Linked DNA regions of Homo sapiens: all the other regions are reported to be linked to region 1. The links are microRNA targets in miRTarBase. Many come from high-throughput screens and were not tested one by one. Region 1 holds a microRNA gene; each other region holds the end of a gene's coding sequence.
What was found. The annotated mature microRNA hsa-miR-124-3p reads UAAGGCACGCGGUGAAUGCCAA and lies in region 1 at 1,249-1,270, shown strand. An mRNA with a match to its seed (bases 2 to 7 or 8) in the 3' UTR can be bound and repressed. Matches are read on the target gene's strand: a 7mer-m8 pairs with bases 2 to 8, a 7mer-A1 pairs with bases 2 to 7 and ends in A, and an 8mer does both.

Region 1 (4,067 bases):
ATCCCTCGCATGCTCCCTCCCGCCTCGTGTCCCTCTCCCCACCCTCCCCCTCCTCTCTCCCGCCTCCCTAACACTGCGCTTTGATTCTGTTTTTCAGGGGCGCATTCTGGGGTCTCTGCGCAAGACCAGCTCTCAGCTCTCTCTCCTTTCCTCGGACTCTGGAGCGGGAGCGGGCCTTTCCCTCGGGTCGACCACGCCGTAGGGGACGCCGTGAAAAGAGCCGTCGCGCCCGCTGCCTCCTGCCCGCTGCGCAGAGGGCTCCGCCCGTAGAGGTCAACTTCCCTCACCCTTTTCTCTCTCCTGCTTGCCCTCCCTCCGCCCGGCCCAGGCGCTTCCAGCCCCAGACTGTGGCCACTGGCTGAGGAGTGCGAGTCGGCTGCGCTGCCCTGAGCCTAATCCCTCTTCCGGGCCCAGACCCGAGGTCCGCGCTCCTGGGCAGTGGGGAAGCTTTAGTGAGCAGGCTTTTCTCTCCGCAGCAAACTTGTAGCCAGACCAGATGGGCCGCCCAGCTCTCTCGGGACTAGGCAGGTGCGGATGAGTTAATTTTTCCGCATTACAAAGAAAGATGACCCAGCCCGCCCTTGGACTCTCTTTTCCCAAAATCTCCCAACCAAACCCGCGGTAACGTTATCAAAGGACACAGAGCCCAGGCATATCTGTGTGTTTATCTTACAGGCACACACGCATGGTTTTCTCTTTTATATGCTAGATTTCATCCCTGACAGCAGAAAATGATTGGCAATGGTTATGACGGAGAACATGCAATAGCGTGGTCCTTAAAAACCTGCCATTCCTTACAAGTGCCTTAGAAAGGATTCAGGGCGAACCAACTGGGTTAATTGCATTCAGTAAAATAACACGATTACAAAATTAGATCTGTACCAGAGGGGTAATTAACTTGGATCCACGCCGTCATTTGAAAACTAGATTTATAGGCTTATGTATGTTTTTAGGCGTGTGCTGTAAATGGCATGGAGATATATGCATATGTATACGCAGGCACACGCACCGTCTACACTTCCACGGAACAGACTAATTAACAGCGGCTCTGGCAGATGTGTCAGAGATGAGCAGAGACAGGAGCTGGGCTTATGAGTTATGACTCTAGGGGTAGAGACTCAGAGCGGAGAGAGGGGGATGGGCAGGGAGAGAAGAGTGGTAATCGCAGTGGGTCTTATACTTTCCGGATCAAGATTAGAGGCTCTGCTCTCCGTGTTCACAGCGGACCTTGATTTAATGTCATACAATTAAGGCACGCGGTGAATGCCAAGAGCGGAGCCTACGGCTGCACTTGAAGGACACCAAAGCATCTCAGGGTCAGAAAGGGGAAAAAGCAATTGCAGGGAATTTAGGGGGTAGTAAAAGGAACCCATCTCTTGCCGCATAAATGCCCCCCACCCCCACCCAGGACTGATTCTGGAAGCAACCTAGTGTTCGAAAGGGAAAGGCTCCTACTTTTCCATTACAGCCGCGGAAATCCGCAGGCAAATCTCCGAGGAGAATTTTAGGGAAGCTTCATTGACAGCTGTCTGGAGAGCAGTAGTTCCCGCCTGTGCAAATATTCCAGAGAGTTAAATCATTTAGAAAGCACTAGTTCTTTCAAGAACAGGTAGTGTGATTGTCTGCAGTCCTGGGCCAAGCTGGGAAAACAAAACAGCAGAGAGAGGTGTAACATTAAATAGCGTCCTGACCACACTGCGCAAGAAACAGCAAATGAAACGTCCAAACTTTGGAAAGATCTGAAGAACACTTGCCGCCCGCATTTCCCCTTGACTTCTCCCTTTTTCTTCCCAATCTCGAGGCGTTCATGCCTGGCTTTAAGACGCCAAGATAACTCTCTTGTTTTGGCATTGTCGCAATGTCCAAATCGGTCAAAGGAGTGGGATAAGGTGAAAGGACCAGGTCAGAAACTTTAGAAGGACTCGGTAAATTAATTTGTTTGGAAGCCAGTGAGGTGGACTATGTTGAGGTAGCAGTTCCGCACCACGACTTTGGAGCCAAAGAAAAACCCAGGCCGAAAAAGCGAGCCTTGATGTCTTTGTTCTGCCTTGGCCTGCAGGGGTTGGGAACAAAGGAGAGGAGCTAAGAGGATGCACCAAAGTAGCCGCGCCCTCCCTGCCTGGCGCTGTCCGCGGTGCTGACCGTGGCCCTTTTCTCTCTCCGTAATCAAACTGGAAAAGCAATAGGACCGTCCCGTCCCTACTCAAAAGAAGAGTAGGATATTAGGTAATTTGAAAAATAACATTTAAAAAGAGAAAAAGGTCACATACAGCAAAACAATATTTTACTGAAATCGTTCCCTCAAGCTGGTTGCTACCCTTGCCTGACACTTTTTGGTCTTCACGTAGGAATGCACACATACATACATTGTAAGTGTATGGGGAAACCATTTCCACTTTATTTAGGCTGAAACCTAAATCGCAGGATTGCAAGAAGGAAATTGAGGAGAATGAAGGCTTTATTATTATCCTTTTCTTTCTTAAATCATCTTCCTTAAAACAGAAACATAAGGTCCTCAGCCGCGGATTTTAGTGCTTACTTGGTCACCAAAGGGACGTGCAATGGACTCAAGTGTGGGCCTCGAGGCTTAACTAGGAAGGGGTGGGTCGGGGACCCACCAGGTGAAACAGGGCAGGAGCCCATGCAGCTTGCCACCTTCGGCCAGGCCTTGCAGCCCGGCAGCCTTAGTAGACGGGTACAGAGGGCTGAGCTCTGCAGACCGCTCTGCTGCGCAGGAGCCTGCTCGGCGCATCCCAGCCGGCGGGAGGCACTGGAGGGCCAGGAGGCCTGAAACCCGCACTGCGGAAAAACCGACCTCAGCCACATCCTCATAGCTCACGCGACGGAAAGAGGCAGGGCGGTTTACTAAATCTTATGCAGTGAAAATTCGCCTTAGAAATCGAAGGTTGGATGAGTCAGTATTGATATATTCAAAAATCTAAATTTCTTAGCATATTTCATCGTTCTTAGATGTTGAAAGTATTAAATGTAAACAATACAAATTTAAATTCCCTAAGTAATGAATCAAAATGGCAAGGGAGAGAGAGAGAGAGAGAGACGGAAAATCAACCAATTCGTAGCCACCCTGGCTGGCTATTTCTCAAAAGAAATTTCTATGCATTTGCTTGAGTTTGTCTATAAATTCACAAACATAAAGGGTGTTAAAATTAGTAACAGACAAAATAATTCAGGTTGGACAATAGAGACAGCAACACCGATTTTGATCCAGGTATAACAATGGGCCATGCATTGACAATGACCTAAAAGACATGTGTTCATTAAGTTATTTTTTTTACACGGGATGTAGATGTATCATAAAATTCATGAAATAAAGCGGCCAGGTGCAATATCCTCAGAGAGCTGCCTTCTCACCCCCTGCCTCAGGGCGGATTTTATCTGTCCTCGAATTTTAGAACTCTGCAAGTCGGGTCTTTCACATTCATCGATTACTTTGGTTTATATTTAATTTTATCCAATTTCGGAGTGGGTGGGTAAAGCACACTGGAAAATAGGGGCTGCTCGAATTACAAAATTTAAGGATTGGGAATATTCCTCTTGTGCCAATTAAAAGCAGTCGTTGGAAGCAGAAATGAATTTAAAGCATTACACGTTATCATGGCGGCCTTGCTTTTTCCTTCCAGTATTCATCCAATTGCGCTGATCTCCTGCATCCACATCTTGCGTAATCCACAAAGCAGCTATGGTCCAGGGCTGCAAAATCGTCCTGCCTGATTCCTTTAGAATTCATACTACCTCAGAGGAGCAAACCTAATCCCCTCAGCCTAATCCTACCTGTTTAGGATCATCTAAACTTGTCCTTCAGAAAGCTTGATCAGTTTAAAATTGCTTTCTAAATAGAAATGAAATACGTGATATGAGAGAGGTTAAAATACTGCTTAAAAAGGGAAACACTCAATTTAGTAATTCGGTTGCCTAGATGAAATCGAGTGGCTATTGATCCGTGATGTTTCTAGATTTTTAAGACTATGTACTTCCTATTTCTTTGGAAAATAATCATCCAGTTTGATGCCCATTACAAATTTTCCTGCTATGAAAGAAATTCTATG
Region 2 (4,056 bases), not on the chromosome of region 1:
ATCAAGTGTGCCCTGGCTGCCGAGATTCCCGCCCCGCCTCCGCTCTGCCTCCTGGCCAGCCCTCACCTCTCCGTCTCTCCGTGCCTTCCCCTCCAGGCCCCTTTGGCCACTGCCGCACCCCCCTGCAGTCCCCTCCTGAAGGCGCCCTCCCCGGCTGGCCCCTTACACAAGGGCAAGAAGGCAGTGAACAAAGATAGCCTTGAGTACCGGCTGAGGCGGGAGCGCAACAACATCGCCGTGCGCAAGAGCCGAGACAAGGCCAAGAGGCGCATTCTGGAGACGCAGCAGAAGGTGCTGGAGTACATGGCAGAGAACGAGCGCCTCCGCAGCCGCGTGGAGCAGCTCACCCAGGAGCTAGACACCCTCCGCAACCTCTTCCGCCAGATTCCTGAGGCGGCCAACCTCATCAAGGGCGTGGGGGGTTGCAGCTGAGGCTGGCTGGTGGATTGTGGGCACCAGGCTCCCTGGCACGGCCTAACTCTGCGGACCCCCATCCTGCTGGGGGCCTAGAACCCTGAGACATAGACCATGGATAAATGGCAACCGGGGTGGCAAAGAGGGCAGGACCCAGCATAATGATTATATGGCTGAATAAAGTTGCACTGTGACTGGGTGTTGGGACTGTTGGCTGTGTGTGTGTGTGTGTGTGTGTGTGTGTGTGTGTGTGTGTCATGGAGGACCCTGGGGACAGAGGATGCATGTGGCTAGGTCTGCACCTCTTGTTTCCATGACCAAGTGGACATGTGGAAACACAGACATGCTGTCCACAGCCCACCCCCAATATACCACACAGCCAGGCCGTGTATCTGTCACTCTGCTCTTCTCTCCCTGACATCCCCCATCACCCCCTTCTGTGAGCTGAAGGCACATCCCCGCCCCCCACAGGACCTGGAGCACCTTTGTATGCTCTGCTAACAAAGATCTTCAGCTTGTAGGGAGATCCCGGCACCACACAGTCCTTCATGCCCAGGCCTGCTGATCCCAGGCCCACTCTCTCTCACCTTGAGGTATAGGTCTGGGAGCTCCTGCCCCAGGTGACCATGGGAAAATTCCTGATGGCTCTGCCATATTTATGGTCCCTTGATCCAGCCCGCCATCTCTTCTCTCCATTTCCAAAGCCTCAGTCTACCAGATGGACACCCTCCCCACGCTGCTCCCACCCATTCATTTCCATCCTTTGTCCCTCATCCCTGAGGCTCCAGTTCCCTAAAGCTTGAGAATTGAGTGCATGGGACAGGAATCGGTTGGGAAAGACCTGGAGACCGGATTTGTGTATGAGAACACTGGTAGTGAGAAGGAGGATGACAATCTGCCCGTGCCAGGGAAACCCATCATTCGAAACAGCATTTTCTTTTGCATTGGACTACAGCCTAAGAGACAGAATGGTACAATAATTAAGAGCCTCAGTTTGAATCTTACACTGCTACTTACTAGCTGTGAGCCTTGAGCCATTATGTCTTTCTGTGCCTCAGTTTCCTCATCTGCAAAATGGTTGCAATATTTGTCCCCACTCCGTAGTGTTGTTATATTCATAGAAAAAGAAAACTTTGCATGTAATAAGCATATTTATTATGATTCCTCCATTTTGCTGGAACTGAAAGGACCTCAGAGATCTCATCTAAACTCATTTTGCAGGTAAGAAAACAGGCTGCAAAGAGGGGAAGGGACTTACCTGGAGTCACACGATTGTTTAGAGGTAGAACCAAAATTGGCTCTGTAAAATCGCAGATCTCAAGATGTGCTGGGAGAGACCTCAAGAGATCATCTGGTGGGCTCTGCCCTCAGACCAGCAAGGTAGGGTGAGCCACATTTTACAGATAAAGCAGTTGAGGGCCAGAGGGGTAAGAGGCTTCTCCTGACACTCACTGAGTCCCTTTGCTGCCTCAGTACGTGGTACCTGTCTCTCTACTCCACGCTACACTCTTCTCACAGATCCTCAGTACGAGTGTCACATGAATCACATTCAATAAAGAACAGTGCCCAACAGTGTCAGGGACCCAGGGACAGATTACGGGCTTCTTAAAGTCTCTCCTAAGCCAATGCTGTGAAAGGCTGAGTCAGACATCAAGGAATAATTTTCTGAGAAGGTGAGAGACTGGTGTCTGGATCATCCCAGATCTCTCTCCCTTCTTCAAATCTCCAGCGGTAGAGCCCTCCCACACCTCGGGCATCCGTGTGCGGCATGTCTACCTTGCCCAGGACTCAGTCCTTTTCCTGCCTTTGCCTCTGTGTCTCTCGGGCACCTCTGTGTCCTGGAGGCCCGTGCCCCAGGTCTGGTTTGGAGGGAGAGATCTGAACCTTCAGTGGAGGGACCGACTGGAGCTTCCTGAGTTCAGAAGGAGGGGAGGTACCAGTCTCTGTGGGCACCTGGGAGAATCCTCACACCTTCCTTTCAGCCCAGGGGGATAGGTTGCATAAGGGGGGTTTGTACAGAACATGGTAAATGACTCAACCTCCGGATTTCCTCCTCTCAGCTCAAGACCACTGTCCCTTGACTTACTTTCAAGGTTCTGGGTGATGGGACCTGGGTTGCTTCAGCATGAAGCCCAGGCTTTGTTCCCACAGCTCTGAATTGCTTCTCCTCTCAGGCCCCCGCTCACCCAGTCAGGTCCTCAGGGCCGGTGCCTAGTGGAGCCTTCCTGACTGGCACCCAGTCTGGGGGAGTCACATCCCCGTCTCCCCACTGTGATCCCAGCGTGACGTGCAGCAGCTGAACACATCCCAATCCTCTGCATCAGATCATATTCCAGGGGTGTGAGTCAGAGCCAGAGGGCACACTTCCTGAAAGAGGCTTTCAATCTGACCTCAATTGGTTTTGGCCAACGTAACTTATTCAACAAGTATTTGTTGAGTATCTTTTCTAGGAATGAGACAAGTTCTCAGCAGAAGGAGTAGGAAGAAAAAGTCAATAAACAAGTGTGCTGAATGTCTTCCTTTGCCCCTCCAGAACCCTCTCCACCCTTCATCACCCTACACAGTCCCCAGGTGGATGCCTCCCTACATCAACCAGCCTCTCATGGGGTGGGGGTGAGACTGGCAGGAGGAGAGTGGTGGGAGCCCCCTGCTGACCGGCGCTCTCCACAGTCCCTCCCAAAGGATTCCTGGCCCTCAGGCGCCCCCCGTGCTGGGCTAGCCCAGGGGACTTCACCACTCCAGGAACTTTCCCCAGATACTGTTGGTTCACATCTTCATAAAGCACCTTAATTAACTTCTCCTGCTTACTCCATTTGAATAGCCCATTGGGGAAACCACATAAACCAACAGGTAGGGAGGCTATTTTAGCTGGGGTGGCCGAGAAAGGTATCTCTGAGGAAGTGACATTTTAGTTGACACTTCAAAAATTTTGAGAAGGAGGCAGGTATGTCTTTGAGTGTAAGGGTGAACAGAGGGAAGGGTAAATGCAAAAGCCCTAAGGTGACCGAGAGAAAGGAAGCCAGGAGTAGATGCTGAATGAAAGAAGGAAGGAGAGGATAAGTAAGAAAAAGATGCACCTTCCCTCCAGAATGGGGCTGCAGGGGTTGCAAATGACTATTTTCATTCCCTCTGTCAAGGAGGATGGTGCCTAAGAAGCCGGGGCAGGTGGAGAGCAGGGTTCTCTCTGCCCCTGGATTCAGCTTCCCTGCCCCTTGGTCCTCCTGGCACCTTTACCACAGTAAGGTTGTCCCCACTGGGGAAGGAGATGACAGAAAGGAGCCCAGGGAAGGGCAGTTAGCCAAACCCTGCCTGGGGAAAGGCACCAGGACCGGGGACTCGATAACGTTTGAAAACCAGCAAATCAAGGTCCAAACAGCACACGCATGCAGTCCTATTGCTTCAGCGCCCACAGCTCAGGCCCACTTTTCTTTCTGGAGCAGAACTGGGGAGCAGAATGAGACTCCTGAGCTGAGAGACAGGATCTTAGGCCACAGGGAAGCTGCAGAGGAGAAGACAGACTGTGGGGAGACACTGCAGAGGGAGGAAGCTGCCCAAGGTGAGTCTGCCAAGGTCAGTCAGCGGAGGCAGTGGCTTGTGAAAGCTGCCCCCAACCCCCCTGCTCGGTGCACACCTCCCCACCCC
Region 3 (4,056 bases), not on the chromosome of region 1:
ACATGTGTCCATAGGAAGACTACAGTGAGCCAGGGGGAAAGTGGTATATGAAGAGGGGTTGCAAGAGACAAAGTATAAGTAGGCAGGGGCCTTGCAGGATACTGTAAGCAGTTTGGATTTTATTCTAAGTGTCAATGAGAAGTCATTTAAGGGCTTCAGGCAGGGGGGTCACATGATCTATTACTTTAAAAAAAAAATCACTGTCTATAGACAACTGTAGGAACAAGAGTAGAAGCAAGGACTCCAGCTAGGAGTTATAATAACCCATGGGAGATCATGGCAGTTTGGACTAAGGTAGCTGTAGTAAAAGTGAGGAGAGTCAAGACACACTTTGGAAGTAGAACTGACAGACTTGTTGACAGACTGGATGTAGGGAGTGAGAGAAGAGGAAAATTAGGGATAACTTCCAGGTTTCTAGCTTAAACAACTGGATGGGTGGAGGTGCCATTATCTAAGATGAGGAAAACTGGGAGAAAGGGAACAGCCCCAGGGTGTATCACTGCTTATTTTTAATGAGGCATGTTAAGTGTACATGTCAAGTAGGCAGCTGAATATTTGAATCTAGAGCTTTCTAATAGGGAAGACAGGACAAGGATGTTTGTGATAAAAGCCTTGAAAACTTAAATGTTCACAGAGAAATTTTTTGTCTAGCTGGGTTAATCAGAGAAGTTTGCAGGAAAAAGTTGGCATTTGAGCCAAAGGAAAGATGATGAGGGAAAGCATTGCAGCTAAAGGGAATGAAATTGCAAAGATGGAGATGGGAGAAATCTTAAAAGCATGTTCAGAAACTGGAAAATTGTTCAGTTTAGATGGAATGTGGCTTGTATCCGGAATGTTTCAAGATGACTCTAGAAAGGATGACTGAAGCCAGATCACAAAGGGCTTTGAGCACCATCCTAGGGAATTTGTATTGTACTCGGTGGGCAATTGGGAACACTAGCAAGTCTTTAAGCAGAGGCATGACCTGACGAAGTTGTTAAAAAACAAAATTTGGTGACACTGAGTAGGGCGGATCGAGGAGGGAGAACAGGAGGCAAGGGAGGCCATCTAAGAATTTATTTAGATAATCAAGGCATGAGGTAACAAGTTATTTAGGTAATAACCTAAATGCTTATCATGGCAATAGGAAGTTAAAGGGCAAATGTGGGAGACATTTCAAAGGGGAATTATGATTATGTTAACCTAACAGGAGAGCCAGGAGGAGGCACCTGCTTTTTTCTTCTCAATGTCTTTTGCCTCCACACTAGATCGTAACCTCTGGTAAGGCTGGGAGATATTTTTCAATCTTTCCACAGTGGGATTTAACACTATCAAGGAGATCTCATGCTGGTATGGCTTCTTAGTAAATAGGAAACAAAGAGGTGGCTCTGGTATTGAAGTGAATGGACTCACACAGACAGTGGTGCTGGAAAAAGCAGTGTGGGGTCAGGTCCACAAACCAGGGAATGGGCTGAGAGTAAGCACTAGGAAAGATGAGTTCAAATTTCCTACCTTCTTCCCTTTAAAGCCTCATTGCCTGCCCTCCTTCCTACTCAGTCCCCTCATTCACCCAACAAACACTCACACAGGCAGAACCTTCAATGCTCTGAATTTTTCCTTCCAGCAGACTCCCATCCATCTGTGTGAAATCTCACCCACTCACAGCCCCCATCTGATGAATAAGTCTCACTGAGAGAATGTCGGAATGTGCTACTCTTCCCTCGGTACTATTTACATTTAGACAACTGCGGCCTTGACTATCATAATCCAAATGTCTAACATGAAAATTAATCATATGGCAAGCTAGAGCTGGGGTGAGGTGGAAGGTAAGGGGGCAGGGGGTATCTTTAAGTACTCATTCTAATGATGAAGCCTGGATTTGGCCTCCCCTCATTCCCTGCAGTCTCACTTGGGCTATGTACTATGAGCCCCCTTTCGAAGGAGTTAAAATTAATTTGGAAAAGTGTTCTGAAGTAACTCTGTGGAGGAGAAACAGAATGAATATCCAAGACATTTCCTCTGGACTAGCTAATCCTTTTGCCACTGCTTGATCTCACCTTCCTTTGATTGTTTCTCCTCTACTTCCTACTTTTTACTGTTGGTATATTTTTATGTGTTCATTATTCAATGTCTTTTGAAAAGTACCCTGAACTCTTTGGAGAGTATGTGCTATGTAAACACAATAAAGAAATGAATACAATGTCTCCTTTTACAAGAGAATAAGTTTTACTATTTCTGATAGTACGAAGTTTACCCCTCACTCAGCACTAGCCTGAAGAGTAAGTAGGTATATTCTGAGGGACATCAGATTCCACTCTAAAGTACTTCCCTAACTACCTGAAATCCCATTAATTTGATGACAAATATATTTTTTAATTTGAGCCTTATAGGTTTTTCAAGAATCCCTTATTAAAATGCGAATACCAAAGCAGGCGAACAGATCATGATATAACCTTAGTCCCCTTTATATTAACCCACCACTTCTATCGAACACATTTTTCACATTCCAAATTTTTCCATGCCTTTGTTTATGCTTTTCTTCTTCCAGAGGTAATGCTAAATTTAATATAAATTAGAAATATAACATTACCTTATATTTTCACATAATCTCTCATTTGATATTCAAATCCAAGCCTACTTGATCTTTTTAAAAACAATTTATTTTTTTCCAATGTAAGAATAACAAGTTTAATATTGAAAATCTGAAAAAGGCAGGAAGATAGGAAGAAGAAAAATATCAACCATAGTCCTACCACCTAAAGAACACTCACTGACAGTGTGGCCATGCTCATTCTTTAAGCCTTAATTTAGGTCCCATTTCTGGTGTGGTGCCTTCCTTGAACTTCCTCCCCCAGATCTTCCATGTCATATCTGTACCACTCAGTTGTACATATCATACACTTTTGTGTATAATGTGATGTATGTCTTATGTTTCCAACGAGATTGTTACATCTTCGAAGGCTGCAAACATGAGTTGTACTTGTTAGCTTACCCCAAAATAATACCTGGTATACCGGACCCAATATCTGCTGATTGATCTAACCTAAATGAATACAAACCATTTCAGAAAAAGATATACAATAGACCACATATCCAGGTCATGAAAATTAAAGCTTTCAGGTCACCTAGCTTAGTGACTATTGCTTTTCTGACCCTAGACTCTTGAAAGCCTATTTAAACTGGCCTCTTTCTCCACACCAAAACTGATAAAAAGGAGACTGATTATGAGCCAGGATTTACACAGAGATTCTCTATATAAGGCATAAAGGTGAGGGTGAGAGAGAGAGAGAGAGAGAGAGAGAGAGAGAGAGAGAGACGTGAGGGAGGGAGAGAAAAGAGAACAGACAGAAGATAAGAGAAGAGAAGGGTATACAGTCTGGTGCTCAATCCAGTATGTGATTTGCCTCCAGCACCGTGTACAGGATCCCATCCACTTGTTCTGAGTCATACCCGATCTCACGAAGCTCCAAGTGAGGGAGGACAGAAGTAAGGAGATAGCTGACGTGGATACGTAGCCGCGTAAGCTTTGCCAAAGCCCTGTATGAAGGAGTGAGGGGGCAGGAGAAGAGATGACATGAAGTCATTAACCAACAGAATAAAATGAAGCCCCTTCAAAATGGAACCACATTTCTCAACAGTTATGTTTTCATTAGCTAGAAAGAAGAAAGCACAACGCCACCAAGCACAGGGAGACTGGCTGCAGCTTTCTAAGAAGTAATTACTCAATTCTTGGTGGCCTGTGAATTAAGGCTTCCTCCTTTGTCTACGGCCAGTAAGTGGGGGTCCTAAGGGATGCTTCCCATTAGCACTCACAAGCTGATAACTAAACCCTAGTAATTAACCTTTCTAGGTCATCTCCCTCTGGGGTCCGGTAGGAGACCTGAGCCTTCTGCAGCATTTCCAGGTGTGTCTCTGTTTCCTTCAGTTTCTCTTTTAACTCTTGCTTTTCCTCTTTGGTTCTTTCCAGCTCAGCTTTCAGAATCTGGAATTCAGCTTGGCGATAACCCATGTGTTTCTTGCTCCAGTACAAGCCTTCCGCCTCCTGGGTACTGTAGATCACCAATTCATGTTGGACTT

Region 2: miRTarBase lists CEBPE as a target of hsa-miR-124-3p. The part of its 3' UTR that is shown has no 7-base or 8-base seed match.
Region 3: miRTarBase lists MORC4 as a target of hsa-miR-124-3p. Seed matches in the 3' UTR shown: 7mer-A1 at 3,236-3,242.

Annotation. Positions count from the first base shown.
Region 1 is chr8:64,377,962-64,382,028 of GRCh38, forward strand. MIR124-2 (microRNA 124-2) reads left to right here and starts at 1,188; the gene lies at 1,188-1,296. It overlaps MIR124-2HG (MIR124-2 host gene), which reads left to right. Exons shown (of 3, transcript NR_109792.1): 2 at 98-528; 3 at 3,642-4,067.
Region 2 is chr14:23,113,863-23,117,918 of GRCh38, reverse strand. It overlaps CEBPE (CCAAT enhancer binding protein epsilon), which reads left to right. Exons shown (of 2, transcript NM_001805.4): 2 at 97-613. The coding sequence ends at 432. Among named protein-coding and RNA genes, the nearest start is that of CEBPE, 3.4 kb to the left of the region's middle. RefSeq lists enhancers at 1,954-3,153, 3,319-4,037.
Region 3 is chrX:106,938,117-106,942,172 of GRCh38, forward strand. It overlaps MORC4 (MORC family CW-type zinc finger 4), which reads right to left. Exons shown (of 17, transcript NM_024657.5): 16 at 3,822-4,056; 17 at 2,622-3,516. The coding sequence ends at 3,363. Among named protein-coding and RNA genes, the nearest start is that of CLDN2, 20 kb to the left of the region's middle.